Linked DNA regions of Homo sapiens. The gene in region 1 interacts genetically with each later gene. Each region holds a gene or a part of one and is shown on either strand. Other genes may lie near its edges.

Evidence for each region. Genes that interact genetically often act in the same process or in processes that back each other up.
Region 2: of CSNK1A1 (region 1) and AXIN1, changing one suppresses a phenotype caused by changing the other (phenotypic suppression), as found in Homo sapiens cells (one study listed by BioGRID).

What each region holds. Positions count from the first base shown.
Region 1 is NC_000005.10:149,548,398-149,555,823, forward strand, and holds the start of CSNK1A1 (casein kinase I isoform alpha), read right to left. Parts: upstream 3,043-7,426; 5' UTR 2,568-3,042; coding exon 2,445-2,567; intron 1,969-2,444; exon of another isoform or gene 1,785-1,968; coding exon 1,678-1,784; intron 1-1,677. Other genes in the region: ARHGEF37 (rho guanine nucleotide exchange factor 37), read left to right, coding at 3,705-3,726.
Region 2 is NC_000016.10:349,690-357,572, forward strand, and holds the start of AXIN1 (axin-1), read right to left. Parts: upstream 3,035-7,883; 5' UTR 2,746-3,034; coding exon of another isoform or gene 2,680-2,745; intron 1-2,679. UniProt on the Homo sapiens protein: Component of the beta-catenin destruction complex required for regulating CTNNB1 levels through phosphorylation and ubiquitination, and modulating Wnt-signaling.

The DNA of each region.
Region 1 (7,426 bases):
CTCTACTAAAAATACAAAAATTAGCCAGGCGTAGTAGTGCAGCTCTGCAATTCCAGCTACTTGGGAGGCTGAGGCAGGAGGATCACTTGAACCTGGGAGGCGGAGGCTGCAGTTAGCCAAGGTTGCGCCACTGCACTCTAGCCTGGGCAACAGAGTAAGGCTCCGTTTCAAAAGAAAAAAAAGCCGGGCACAGTGGCTCATGCCTGTAATCCCAGCACTTTGGGAGGCCGAGGCAGGCAGATCACCTGAGGTCAGGAGTTCGAGCCCAGCCTGGCCAACGTGGTGAAACTAAAATACAAAAATTAGCTAGGCGTGGTGGCGGGCGCCTGTAATCCCAGCTACTCAGGAGGCTGAGGCACGAGAATCACTTGAACCCGGGAGGCAGAGGTTGCAGTGAGCCAAGATCGTGCCATTCATTGCACTCCAGCCTGGACCACAAGAGCGAAAACTCCGTCTTAAAGAAGAGGCTCCAGTAAACAGTAAGTACCATTCTTACCTATTCTGAATAATTTTGCAAATGTTATTTTAGATTATTGCTGGAAAATAGCTGGGCTTTAAACTATATTTTAGTCTCCATTCCATGAAGAGGATCTTTAATCCCAAAAGTTAAAACATTAAAACCCTCCAAAGTAAAGTTAACCATTTGACAGAACAATGTCTATCTCGTCATCTTTTATCCTCGTTACTGCTATTTGCACTCACCAATATTCCACACCAACAAAGGCCCCAATTTCTCTGATGTGAAGATTTACTGACAAACTCAACAGGTTAAAATTACTTATCAAAGTGTGGCTAAGTGATTAAGATTTTTTTAAATACAACTGATATGAGTAAATTTTAACATAGTTGGTGCTGCTCAAACTGCCTTTGCCACTACCTATACAAATTTAGTCCCGACTGAAACGTGCCAAATATGACCATTCACGAAAAGAAAGAGTAATTAACACTTTTAAAAGAACTACGAAGGATTTTACATAGTGTAATTCAACAATTTCGTGTCACATCTGCTGCAGAGATCACAAACACTGTCACTATGCCATCTCCTTCCTCGAACCTCCACACCGCCTCCTGCAGCTTTATTCTTGGCTTTTCAAAGGTTTAATCCACTCGGGGCTGCTAAAGGAGGAATCAAGGAAGCATAATTTGTGAACTCAAGCTGAGAAAAGGGCAGGAATATGGGGTTGAGTCACGTCGTTCCGCCATTTTCTAAGCGGAGGAGGAAGACATGTTGGAACAAAAACACAACAAAAGAGCAGCCATTTCCCAAGCCAGCTCCAATAGCAACTCGAACTGACACTGCCGGGTCGCTTCGGCACCTTCAAATCCACTTCACTGGACAAACCTAAGTACATCAGAAGTGCCGCCGTAAAAAAGGCAGCAGCCAACCCTTCCGCGTAGGGATCAAAGATGACCTGCACGCATAACTGCAAATGAAAGCCTCGGGAAGAGTGAGAATGACGGAAGCGAAATGGAGCAGTGTAATACAATGAAATAAGTTGGCAAACTGAAATTTACTCAGTAATTGAGATGACTGACTTACAGGAAACCACCAGCTATAGGGAACCCAGGTAACTAAAACACCAAGACCCGGATTCAGCTGGTCTCATTACCTGCCTCTACCCACTTCCCCATTCCGTGCTTCCCTCAGCGGATCGCCTATATGCACCGGGTTCTTACCGTATGTGGGGGATGCCAACCCCACCTTGAAGAATCTTATAGAGCTTGCTCTCGTACAGCAACTGGGGATGCCTGGCCTTCTGAGATTCTAGCTTCACTGCCACTTCCTGCAGGGGAAAGAGGGGATGATGGCATCAACATCCCTACGGATTCAATGTCACTTAGGAAAGGAGGGAGACATTAGCAAAACTCCAAGTCGCGACTACAAGAAGAAGTGAAAAGCTGGAAAGAGAAAGCTCTCGGTAATTATAAAACGAGGCAACCAGCCTCAAAGGCCTCTTCAGGGGGTAGTGACGAAATCCGTACGTCCTCTAAAGTGCAGGAAAATGATTCATCCAGAAAAAAGAGGCAACCTCTGAACGTAGTGAGAGGTTTTTAAGGAACTAGGCGATCGGAAACTGTTCTAATTGGAACAAGAGGCCCAGTAGAATTAAGAATTAAAAAAAAAAAAACATGGGAATCACTGAAAGAGGATTTTGCCGTTTCCACCTTAAAAGACGGTTAAAAAAAAAAAAAGCTCGACTAAGGGACATTTATGGGACGTGTTTAACAAGGTGGGAAACTAGTTCCCCCAACCTTTCTATCGGGTTCTTGACCCTTTTAGGGAGACAGCGGACGAGGTTCGTAAGCCAGGAAAACTAGCTCCCTGGACTCCCTGGCGAGTGCGTGCGATGAGGAGAGGCCCGAGCACTTTGGGGGTGCACGGTGGTGGTGGGGGGAATGAGTAAAAGCGCAGCGTTATCGTGAACCCCACCCCAGATGATTACCTCGCCGTTGGTGATGTTGATCGCCAAATAGATGTCCCCGAAGGAGCCAGACCCGATCTTCCGTACCAGTTTATATTTCCCTCCGACAATGAATTCAGCCTTGGAGCCGCTGCTACTCGCCATCCTGAGAGACGAAGATGGAGGCTGGGGCCAAGCCCCGACACCTCTGGGAAGAGGACGGAGGCCTCGGGGCTCCTACACTAGGCAAGGCTACGGAGGAGGGCGGCAGGAAACGGAACACGGAGGCCTTTACCGGGGTTCGGGGCCCAGAATCAGCAGAGGGGAACCTGATCACCGCCGCTCAGTCAGGTTTCTTTTTGCCAGGCCGCAGTTTGTGAAGGGCTTCTCGGCGGTTACCAGGCTGGGCCACTTGTTTCTCGGCGGCCGCCGCTGCCTCGCTTGCGCGGCGACGTCGCGGGCTGGAAAAGGGGCGCGGTGAGCTAGGGCGGCGATACCGCTGCCACCACTGCCGCCGGCTCCGGCCCAGAGGGACCCCTGTCACTCCGCGGACGACGCCATCTTGTTACTCCAGCTCCAGCCAACACAAAATGCCCCCAGTCCCCGGGAGCCGCTTCTTCACGGCGCAGAGCACTCTGGGAAAGGGATCTCGGGCGCTCGCTCCGAAGGATCGGCAGCGAGAGGGCGGAACCGGATCCGTGAGAGTCGCGGCCCACGCTCCGAGCGTCACCCTGTCACCGCCCAGCTGCGCATGAGCGCTGCAACTCCTGCTGACTGCGCAGGCGTGCCGCGGCCTGTCCTCACCCCCGTCCCGGGCTCTCTTCCACTTCCGGTCGGCGGCGGCTCAGCAGGTGTTACCTGTTACTCGCCTCGGACCCGCCGGGTCTCTGGAAGGCTGAGTGGCCCCCCGGCCTTGATATTGGGAGGAGTCACCTTCATGTTTCGTGGCAGATGAAAGCTTAAGGCCTCCTTAGGAGTTGGGTATTGACCTGTGCTCTTTGAGGCGGTTTTTAACCTTTGATCTTTCTTCTGGCCGTTCCCCCGGACCGGCCTATTCCAACCCAGTTTCTGTTTGGAAAGAGGCTGTCGCCTCTGGTGGAGAGGAAGAGAAAAGCAGCCAGCGTCGAGGAATCTCTCAGGGCTCTCGGTTGTAGCAGAGCCTAGCTAATTACCCTTCATAATTAGAATTGTCCTATCTACTACGGAGTGTTATAGACCCTCTTTCCACAGGAGGGGAAGAAAGAAAGAAGCCGGAATCCCCCTGCCATCCTATGTCTTTGCATTATTGCCTCACTACCACATATGATCTTCAGAAGAAAACCTGGTATGTTGCTCATAATGAAGATTAAGGATAGATGGAATCAACAGAAAATTAATTTAACAAGAGTGAAAAAACTGTTATGTCCCCTCAACCCCACCAAAAAAAAAAAAAAAAAAAAAAAAAAGAATCGTATGTTGGTCTTGTTGAAAACCTCAGTATTAACCTGAACAGAGTAGAGGTAACTATTACAAAATTTAATTGACAACATTTAAAACTACACGGTAATTTTTTTCTTTTTTACAAAAAATCGATCAGAGAATCAAATTTTGACCACGTTTTGTTTTACAAAATTTGACCTGGGAAAATTGGGCTTAGTAATAATAATGTTCACGAAAGAAAACTCCATGGTTGATGCTATCATCTTAAGTCAGACCTCAGTCGTAAAAATTTAAGCTAAGCCTATCCTAAATAAAATTTAATTAAAATAGAAATGGGGGGCGGGCGCAGTGGCTCACGCCTGTAATCCCAGCACTTCGGGAGGCCGGGGCGGGCAGATCACTTGAGGTCAGTTGTTCGAGACCAGCCTGGCCAACATGATGAAACCCCGTATCTACTAAAAATACAAAAATTAGCCGGGTGTGATGGCGCACACTTGTAACCCCAGCTATTCGGGAGTCTGAGAATCGCTTGAACCCGGGAGGCGGAGGTTGCGGTGAGACTAGATCACGCCACTGTACTCCAGCCTGGGCAACAGAGAGACCCTGTCTCAAAAAAAAAATAATTAATTAAATAGAAATGGGAGAAAAATGTGAAGAATTTTAACTGCAACTTTGAAAGGTGGTCAAGTAATTAGTAATAGGGTTCATCTCGGAAGACAACTGAAGAGAGAGGGGAGGAGACTTCCCCTGAAGTTTAGCATGAAGTTTTTAAAGCCCAACCAACACTCAGGGTGCCCAACTCCCAAATCAGCACTGTTAGACATCATTCTCCTTTGGTGACTCTAAAGCATGTTTTGACTAAGTTAAAATCTGCTGTTAAATTCTGATATAAAATGCAGCCGGGCATGGTGGGCTCACACCTGTAATCCCAGCACTTTGGGAGGCCGAGGCGGCTGGATCACCTGAGGTCGGGAGTTCGAGACCATTCTGGCCAACGTGGTGAAACCCTGTCTCTACTAAAAATACAAAACTTAGCTGGGCATGGTAGCATGTGCCTTGTAGCTCCAGCTACTAGGGAGGCTGAGGCAGGAGAATCGCTTGAACCTGGGAGGCAGAGGTTACAGTGAGCCGAGATCGTGCCACTGCACTCCAGCCTGGAGACAGAGCGAGACTCCACTCCATCTAAAAAATTAATTAATTAATCAATTCTGGTCTTAAAAAAAAAAAAGCCAAGTTTAAGCATCTTGAGTTTTCCAGAGATCACTCCTTTTCTGCTAATTTTCTCACACACATCCAAAGTTTAATGGATTCCTCAGCTTGAGGAGTTCTCCATAAGGGGATGAGGTATACATTTAGACGGATATTTTGGTATTGTGATAAAAATGCTCAATGAAGCCGGGGGCAGGGTAAGGGTGGGCATGAAGTGGTCTAAATTAGTGATTCCCAAAGATCTGTGTATGGACAGGTGCAAGTGGCTAACAAAGTTTGCCATGAGGATGTGAGAAAAGTAAGCAATACATCTTTCATTTATTTATCTGATTTCACATTATATTTCATTCTGAGATTTAGTCTTTTCACATATGTGTCATTAAAATGCTCTTTTATAAAAAGGTGCCGATGGTAGATGGTTTTGGTTTTTAAAATATTCTTGCTCGGTTAAAAGTTGAGCCCGGGTGCAGTGGCTCACACCTGTAATCCTAGCACTTTGGGAGGCCAAGGAAGGGCAATCACCTGAGGTCAGGAGTTCGAGACCATCCTGGCCAACATGGTGAAACCCTGTCTCTACTAAAAACACAAAAATTAGCCGGGCGTGGTGGCGCATGCCTGTAATCCCAGCTACTTGGGAGGCTGAGGCATGAGAATCGCTTGAACTGGGGAGGTAGAGATTGCAGTGAGCCGAGATTGTGCCACTGCACTCCGGCCTGGGCAAGAGAGTGAGACTTTGTCTCAAAAAAAAAGTTGAAAGCTGCGTACGGTGGCTCATGCATGTAATCCCAACACTTTGGGAGGCCAAGGCAGGAGGATCATTTGACTCCAGGAGTTCCAGGCTGCTGTGAGCTATGATCAAACCACAGCATTCCAGCCTGAGCAACAGAGTGAGACCTTGTCTCAATAAATGAATGAATGAATGAATGAATGATAGGTACTTGTATGTCTAATCCTCCTCGCCTTTTTTTTAGAACTTGTGTAAGCCCATTAAATTCTACTGGTCTAAATGACTTCTGGAAACCCTTCTAACCCTGAGATTCTATAATTTTGTATATAAGGTATGAGTCCTCCTTTGTTTCCTGCCTGCTATAGTCACCATTCCAACACTGACAGTGCCCAGCAAAATGCACAAAAATGAGATGTGAGTGGGTCTAGCCTTTTCAAATGTGATTTTAGTTTCTTAAGATTTAAATTTATTGGATTTAAGAATGGCAAAATTGTTTTTTTTTTTTTTTACATAGAAAATGAAGTCCTCAGGTGTTGGCTATGACTCAGCCTTCTTCTTAAAGTCATGTATCATTTGCAGTAATTTTAGCCTAAAAGATTGAAGAATAACCTGTTTTTGGTGTTGCTGTTAAAGTCACAAATCATTCTGTACTTATTGAATCAGCAGCAGCTTTGGTGTAATGAAAGGAGTCTTTTAGGCCAGGCACGGTGGCTCACGCCTGTAATCCCAGCACTTTGGGAGGCCAAGGCAGGCGGATCACAAGGTCAGGAGTTCGAGACCAGCTGGCCAATATGGTGAAACCCCGTCTATACTAAAAAGTACAAAAATTAGCCGGGCGTGGTGGCAGGCGCCTGTAGTCCCAGCTACTCAGGAGGCTGAGGCAGGAGAATCGCTGGAACCCGAGAGGCGGAAGTTGCAGTGAGCTGAGATCGTGCCATTGCACTCCACCCTGGGCTACAGAGTGAGACTCTGTCTCAAAAAAAAAAAAAAAAAGAAAGAAAGAAAGGAGTCTTCAAAGAGCAATTTCTGGCTTCTAGATCAGATGAATTCACTAAAAATATCAAAAGTGTAGAATAAAAATAAAAATTTTAGACCTTGAGGGAAATACAGAGATCACCTAGTTCAATAATAATAATTGTATTTTTTAATGCTTTGCAATTTACTTATGAGTCAAAGTCTCACTCTGTCACCCAGGCTGGAGTACAATGGCACCACCATAGCTCACTATAGTCTAGACCTCCTGGGCTCAAGCAATCCCCCTGCCTCAAGCTTCCCCAGTAGCTAGGACTATAGGCAGGCACCACCATGCCTGGCTAATTTTTTTTTTTTTTTTAACTTTTTGTAGAAATAGTGTCTTGCCTTGTTGCCCAGGCTGGTCTTGAACTCCTGGACTCAAGTGATCCTGACGCCTCATCCTCCCAAAACGCTAGGATGACAGGCAAGAACCACTGTACCCAGCCTGCAATTTAGAGTACTTTCACACATATCATTTGTGCCCCAGTAAGACAAAGTGGCTTGCCCAAAATCATAGAGATCTTAGTGGCAGTGACAGGACTAGAGCCACAACTACTACCAAAAGAAAGAGAAAAAGGAAAGAGTAGAACACAAATTAGGACAATCATGTCCCAGGGATTACTTCTGTGTTCGTAGGGAATTCAAGATGAATTTT
Region 2 (7,883 bases), on another chromosome or scaffold:
AAGAAAAGACATTTGTCACAGACGCCAAACACTGGCTCTCTACAGGGGCTGAACTACTGTACCACAGAAAACAGCAGCAAATTCTTCCAAAACTAATGGGTTTTGTTGTTTTGTTTTTTGTTATTTTGAGACAGGGTCTCGCTCTGTCGCCTAGGCTGGACTGCAGTGGGGCGATCTCAGCTCACTGCAGCCTCAGCTTCCCAGGCTCAAGCAATTCTCCAGCCTCAGCCTCTCAAGTGGCGGGGACTACAGGCACGAGTCATCAACGCCCGGCTAATTACTGTATTTTGGGTTTCACCACGTTGGCCAGGCTGGTCTCAAACTCCTGAGCTCAAAGCAATCCACCCGCCTCGGCCTCCCAAAGTGTTGGGATTACAGGCCACTTTGCCTGGCCCCAAAACTAATGTTTTAATTCATGTGTGAACCAAATTTTCAGAGCCCAGAAGAAAATTTTCTTACAATCATGTGTATTTTTGGCTGTCAACTGACAGAAGACTTTTTGGTGTCCCTGGAAGCACATGAACCCCTCTACAAGCTACTGATGTTGTTGAAACATGTCCCAATTCCTGAAATCTCTGGGTTCCCACAGGGAAGCACACCAAGCATTTAGTGTACACACAAGTACACACCACACATAAAGCAGTCACGTTTACTCAGTTCAGTATCAAATGCCTGCAAGCACTGAATCTGGCCCACAGCCTGTAGCTACCATCAATAAAGTGAGTCCATAAAACGGGCGGGATGCCTACAAGTATGATACTGTATTTAAAATTCCCTTTCGTCACCGCTTAGGCATATGCTCCAGGCATCATGGCAGCAAACTCAATGCTACCTACGTGTGTAGGTATTTATTTTACCCAAACGTAACTTTTGACATTTTGATTTACATGGAGGAGGCAAGTAACACAACACGACTCTGACATCTTCCCAGCTGTCCATTGATTTAACTCTTGAAGGTTCAGGGCTACTATTTCACATGTAATTTATTCCCCCATCACTGAAATTCTCAATGACCAATGTAATCCGAAAAAGTCTGCTTAGCTTTTCTGAAACTAGAAACCCAAGACAAGTCAACACCAGCTGAAAATCAAACAAAAACAGTCTGTTTTTCATGCTTTCCCATCCTTGTCCCTGAATGGAGATCTTAAAACTGAAACCAAAGCCAGGTGAGGTGGCTCACGCCTGTAATCCCAGCACTTTGGGAGGCCGAGGTGGGCGGATCACCTGAGGTCGGGAGTTCAAGACCATCCTGACCCACATACAGAAACCCCATCTCTACTAAAAATACAAAATTAGTCAGGCTTGGTGGCGCATGCCTATAATCCCAGCTACTTGGGAAGGCTGAGGCAGGAGAATCGCTTGAACCTGGGAGGCGGAGGATGCGGTGAGCGGAGATCACGCCATTGGACTCCAGCCTGGGCAACAAGAGCAAAACTCTGTCTCAAAAAAAAAAAAAAACTGAAACCGAGCTATTGCTGAGTATCTCGGGTAGCCGGTTTAGACTGTGTTTTCTCCAAAATAGGGCCTGTGGATCCAAGTAAGCTCGAGATTCTTCCTGAAGAAGCAGAGAACAGAAGTGTGAGCAAAAACAAGGGGCTGACATGCACATAAGAACCCTTTATAAATTATCTTAGAAGGGGCCAGGCGCGGTGGCTCACGCCTGTAATCCCAACACTTTGGTAGGCCAAAGTGGGCAGATCACCTGAGGTCAGGAGTTCCAGGCCAGCCTGGTCAACATGGTGAAACCCTGTCTCTACTAAAAATACAAAAATTAGCCGGATGTGGTGGCGCATGCCTGTTATCCCAGCTACTCAGGCGGCTGAGGCAGGAAAACTGCTTGAACCCGGGAGGCGGAGGTTGCAGTGAGCCAAGATAGCGCCACTGCACTCCAGCCTGGGCTACAGTGCGAGACTCCGTCTCAAAAAAAAAAAATTATCTTAGAGGACGGTGGTCACCCCTGTAGTCCCAACACCTTGGAAGGCTGAGGCAGGTGGATCGCTTGAGGCCAAGAATTCAACACCTGCTGGGCAATATAGTGACACCCCATCTCTACAAAAAATATATATATATATATCTTATAGATGGGCTGAGAAAAATCCCCAGAGAACTGACATGTTTTTCTCTACTTTCTTCAATGCCAAGCTGAAAGTTTCACTGCTCGGGCAGTGCAGCTCTGGTTTCACGGGGGCTAAATTCCAAAGTGCGGGGCGGGGGTAGAATCTAAGAACCACACCCAAGAGAAAGACCAGTGTTTGGGCAGCAAGGCATCAACCTGGAGGGTACGGACGCCGGAGCACGCGGCTACTCAGGCCGAACCCCGACCCGGACCCGGCACGCGGCCTCGGCGAGGGCGGGCGGGAGTGTCCTCCTCCGGGACAGCCGGACTCCCGCCGACTTCTGGGCGGCGGGGAGGGCTCCAGGCCCGGCTCTCCCGGGCCCCCGCACGCGATGCGCGGCCCCTGCAGCTGCTCCGTGCCCCGAGACGCGCCCGAGGCCTCGGACCTCCAAGCGGCCACCGCGCCGCCAGTCCCGCTGCCCAGGGACACCCCGGCCCCAGCTCCCCGCGCGCCCACCCCCTCGGTCCCACGCGCGTCAGCCACCCGCGCCCCCCGCCGCTTCCGGGTCCCGCCCGCCCGGCCTACCGCGGCCTAGCCCGCCCCGGAGCCCGGCCCTACTCACCCGCGCGCGGTGGTGGCGGGACCCCGGGCCCGGCTCCCGGAGCGGCGCGGCGCGGTCCGGGCCCATGCGCTCAGCGGCAGCGCGGCGGGCGGGACCCGGCGGGGGCGCGGCCCGGGGCGGCCCCCATCTCGGCGGCTGCGGCTCGGCGGCCCGGAGGCGGACGCGGGGCAGGCCGCGGGGGCGCCGCAGGGGCCCAGCCGCCAGCTCCCACCCGCCCGCTCCGCGTGGACGCGGCTCCGGGCCGACTCCGGCCGGCTCTGGCGGCGGCAGCGGCCACGATCGCCTCCCGAGCCAGAGCCCGAGCCAGAGCGCCGAAGCCCAGGCCCGAGCGCCCCCGCCGGCGGCGTCCGGAAGTGCGGGGGCGGGGCCGGGGCGCGGGGACGAGGTGAGAGCGCGGGGCGGGGCCTCAACACGGGGCGGGGCCGGCAGCGCGGGGACGAGGTAAAGGGTGTGGGGCGGGGCTTCAGGCGCGGGGCGGGGCTGAAAGCGCGAGGATAAAGTGAGGAGCGTGGGGCGGGGCCGACAGCGAGGGGACAGGTGAGGAGCGCGGGGCGGGGCCGGGGCGTGGGCGGGGCCGGAAGCGAGAAGACGAGGTGAAGAGCTCGGGGCGGGGCCTCGGGCGTGGGGCGGGGACCAGGGAGTAAGGCGGGGCCCGCCTCGAGCAGAAGAGGTAAAGAGCGTGGGGCGGGGCCTCCGGCGCGGGGCGGGGCCGGAAGCGAGAAGACGAGTTGAGAAACATGGGCCGGGGTCTCTGCATGGCCGGGAGAGGGCGTGGTCAGTGCCTGCCGGGGGCGGGGCGTGCCGGGGGCGCGGTCGCGCCGTCTTCCCGAGGGGCGGTGCGGAAGCGGAGCCCGGGAGGCTTTGGCTTCCCAGAGAGCGGAGTGGGAGAGGCGGCGTTGCAGGTCCTTGGAATGGCCGCGGCCGTGGGGAGCACTGGGCGGACTGCGCGCCCCGAAGGGCGCACGTGGGGCGCAGCCCTTTTCTGCCGCCAGTACATCGGAGGGCAGTCAGGGGGCTGCAGGCCTCGGGGCTCCCTGCCCAGCCGGCCCTGGAGAGGAGGCCCTCGTGGGGACCGCCACGGCCTGCCCGCCGCCGTGAGGGAAGCAGGCTCCCAGGAGTGGGGTGGTCGGCAGGCAGGGATGGCCAGGGCCCTTGGAAGGTGGGGTGGGCTCCACCCTCCTGAGTCCCAAGGCAGCCTGGACTCACAGCGCCAGGGAACACGTTAGGCCCCAATATATGGTGGCTCTCACCCGGACAGGAGCCACAACCTCCAAAGAGCCCACCGGCTAGGACCCTCTGCCTTGATTTCTCCCAGGCACCATCTAGTATCAGAGAAGGGTTCTCCTTCCCTCCGCTGCCCAGGCCAGCCCGAGAGCAAGGCCATTGGAGTGTCCAGACCCCTGCACCCCTTCCCCTGGGCTGTCTCCACAGCGGCCCTGCCAAGGGGTCCAGTCCGATCCTGCCACCCTGGCTGCCCAGATCCGTGTCACTTGCCCTGCAGGCCACAGAGCATGAGGTCACAGCCCCAGGCACCCCACGGCAGAGAGGCACGGGCCCCCAGCAGCAGCCCCAGCACCAGCTCTGGCCAGCCCAACCCTGTCAGAACCAACCCTCTGCTCTCCACCCAGGCCTCAGCCAACCATCAGGCCCTCCCCAAGGAGGAGGATGTGAGTACCAGGATCTGCCGCCTCCCACAACAGCCCAGGGCCCTGTCCTTCCCAGAGCACTATTGGGCCTGGCACCTCCCGGGATGCTCCAGGCAGCCCCCTGGGGTCAGCTATACCCCCGTTTCACAGAGGAGACAGCTGCAGTTCAGGCCACACAGGACCAGCTCGCCTCCTGTTGGGTGAGGGCTCCCCACCTCGTCCGCCCCACACCTGAGACAACAGCCCTCATCTATCTGCCCTCTGCTTTAGGCCTCCCAGGGCTCCCTGCTGCCCACAGCCCTTCAGGGCCCTTCCTAAGGGCGCCTCCCCCACACCTTCCCCTAGATGCGTCTGGCCACTTGCCCGCCTCCGTGCTTCCGTGTCCATCATGTCCATACCTGCCAGCTCCCTCCAGGCACCTCTCACGTCACCCCCATGTCTTTCCCTGGGCTGTGTCACCCTGGATGCCCAGCCTCACCCTTCAGAGCTCCCAGGCAAGCACAGAAGTCCCAGCTCCAGGCTCCCCGAGCTTCCAGCCTACCCCCAACCAGATGCCCACAGGTGGGACTGCATGGGGAACCATGTGTGGAAGCCTCCCAGCCCTCGCCCCTGCCAGCACTCAGCATGGTGTCTGATGCCAGCATCGCTGTGTGGGAAAGGGGGTAGCATGGGACAAGGGCCACTAGGCTGTCCCCAGCCTGCCAAGGGCCCAGGCCCACCTCCCAGGGCCATCACTGTGCTCAGAGCAGGTGGGCAGGGGCTGGGGATATGAACGAAGCTGCACTGTTAGACCAACACCTGGCCCCGCTGGGTCCTGGCCGCAGGCACCCTGCCAGGTCCCACAGTGCTGGACACTGGGGCCTCCCCGCAAGCCCCCTAGCCCATTCAGCCTCAGAACCTTAGAGGAGACAGAGTGGGTGGCCTCCATGGTAAAGCACAGTTTCCAGGGATGAGGGAGTCCTGGGTGGCCAGACAGACAGCAGGACCTCAGACACTGGCCCCTGGGCTGCCCCCCGACTCCCAACAAGGTCCCCAATGCTTGCCTTGGTTCTGCAGAGCTGCTGCTGTGTCCGGGCCAGGCTCTCGGGGCTGTGTCCACGTCCATCCTCCTCTTGGCCCTCGGTGGCAGGTGTCCCCAGGCCCTGGGACCAGAACAAGGCCCTTGGGCCTCCAGCTCCTCGGGGCCCCTGCCCTGCAGGGACAGGAAGGGGGTCAGAAAGCCTGGAGGAAATGCAGCAGCCCTTCTAAAGTAGGTTGTGGTGTGGGTGTGGAGGGGAGATTCTCTGAGCCTAGTGGGGGTAGGAGGAGACCAGAGGCAGGCCAGGCAGAAGAGAGGTAGAGGAAGGCCCTGAGGAGGGGCAGGGAGGCGCGCGGGGGCCTGTGGTGTGCAGGGTGAGGTTCAGCCACCTCCCTTCCTCACAGAGCTCCTTGAAGAGGCAAACGCCCTTTGCTTCGAGCGTGAGTTTGCCACGAAGGCTTTTATTTGATTGACCGTAGATGACATTTAATCAGGTTTTGTTTCTAGGCACCAAATGAGACACTTAAGAGCAGACATGGAATTATTTTCTTCAATGTAGACATAAAAGGTATGTTTTTTTGTTTGTTGGTTTTTGGAGACGGAGTTTCATTCTGTTGCCCAGGCTGGAGCCCAGTGGCGTGATTTTGGCTCACTGCAGCCTCCACCTACCATGCTCAAGTGATCTTCCCACCTCAGCCTCCCGAGTAACTGGGATTACAGGCGTGTGCCACCACACCCCACTAATTGTTTGTATTTTTGCTAGAGACAGGGTTTCATCATGTTGCCCAGGCCGGTCTCTAACTCCTGAGCTCAAGGGATCCACCTGCGTTGGCCTCCCGAAGTGCTGGGATTACGGGCCCAAGCCACCATGCCCAGCCTAAAAGGAATACCTTGAAAATAAAGTGGCTGGCCCGGAGCGGTGGCTCACGCCTGTAATCCCAGCACTTTGGGAGGCCGATGCAGGTGGATCACGAAGTAAGGAGTTCGAGACCAGCCTGACCAACATGGTGAAACCCCATCTCTACTAAAAATAGAAAAATTAGCCAGGCGTGGTGGCGCACACCTGTAGTCCCAGCTACTCAGGAGGCTGAGGCAGGATAATTGCTTGAACCTGGGAGGCAGAGGTTGCAGTGAGCTGAGATCGCCCCATTGCACTCCAGCCTGGGTGACAGAGCGAGACTCTGTCTCAAAAAAATAAAAATAAAGAAAAGGCCAGGCACGGTGGCTCACACCCGTAGTCCTAGCAGTTCGGGAGGCCAAGGCCAGAGGATCACTTAAGCTTAGGAGTTCAAGACCAGTCTGGGCAACATAGTGAGACCTTGTCTCTACTAAACAATTTTTAAAAACTAGCTGGGCGTGGTGTTGCGCACCTATGGTCTCAGCTACTCGGGAGCGCGAGGCAGGTGGATCACTTGAACCCAGCGGTTGGAGGCTTTAGTGAGCTGTGATTGAGCCACTACACGTCAGCCTGGGCAACAGAGTAAGACCGTGTCTCCAAGAAATAAAAATTAAGAAAATAATAAAGTGAGTTTTGATGCCTTAAGTGTGTTTATCCATTTAACTGAGGAAGACCACTTATAAAAAATGACCCAAAGGAAACCCTGGAAGACACCCCAAGGACATTAGCTGGGGAGTGTTTGCCGCTGTACGATGTGTGATGGAGACAGCCAGCTGCAGAGATGGACACTGTGCAGCCACCGACCCTGCATCAGTGTAAGGGGAGCGGGGGAAGAGGACGGACGGTTCTGATCCAGGGTTCTGGAGGCTGAGGGAAGCCTTGGGTTCAGCCTCTTCCAGTCTGCCCCTTCTCTGCCCCCTCCGCTCAGTCCATAGGTGTGAGAGGTGGGAGTGGGCAGGCAGGGGAGGCCGCTGGAGGGGAGGGAGGCCCCTCGAGGGGGAGGGAGGCCTTGGACCATCCCGTTCAGGCGAGGGAGGACTGCACTTTCCATCGCAGGCAGAGCCCCCACCACCCTCCACCGCCTTCCAGGCTGTAAGGCGAGCCCCAGCTCTCATCCCTGAGCCTTCTTTTTCCATCAGTTCTGAGCCCACAGGAGAGGCCAGATGCTGCCTGTGCCCCCATCCCAAGCCCGACAGAGAACAAGGAGCTACAACACCCCAGAGACATGCCGCCAGGCCACGCACACAGGGCACCACTTTTCCTGAAAATAGAAAATGTGGGCGGGGCGCAGTGGCTCACACCTGTAATCCCAGCACTTTGGGAGGCTGAGGCGGGAGGATCACTTGAAGTCAGCGGTTTAAGATTAGCCTGGGCAACAATGCAAGACCCTTTCCCTATAGAAGCATTGTTTTTAATTAGCCAGGCATGGTGGCGTGCACCTGTGGTCCCAGGTACACGGAGACAAGAGGATGGCTTGAGCCCGAGTGGTCAAGGCTGCAGTGAGCTGAGATGGTGCCACTCCACTCCAGTCTGGGTGAGAGAAAGACCTGACACTGGGCCAGGCGTGGTGGCTCACGCCTGTAATCCCAGCACTTTGGGAGGTCAAGGCAGGCAGATCGCCTGAGGCTGGGAGTTCGAGACC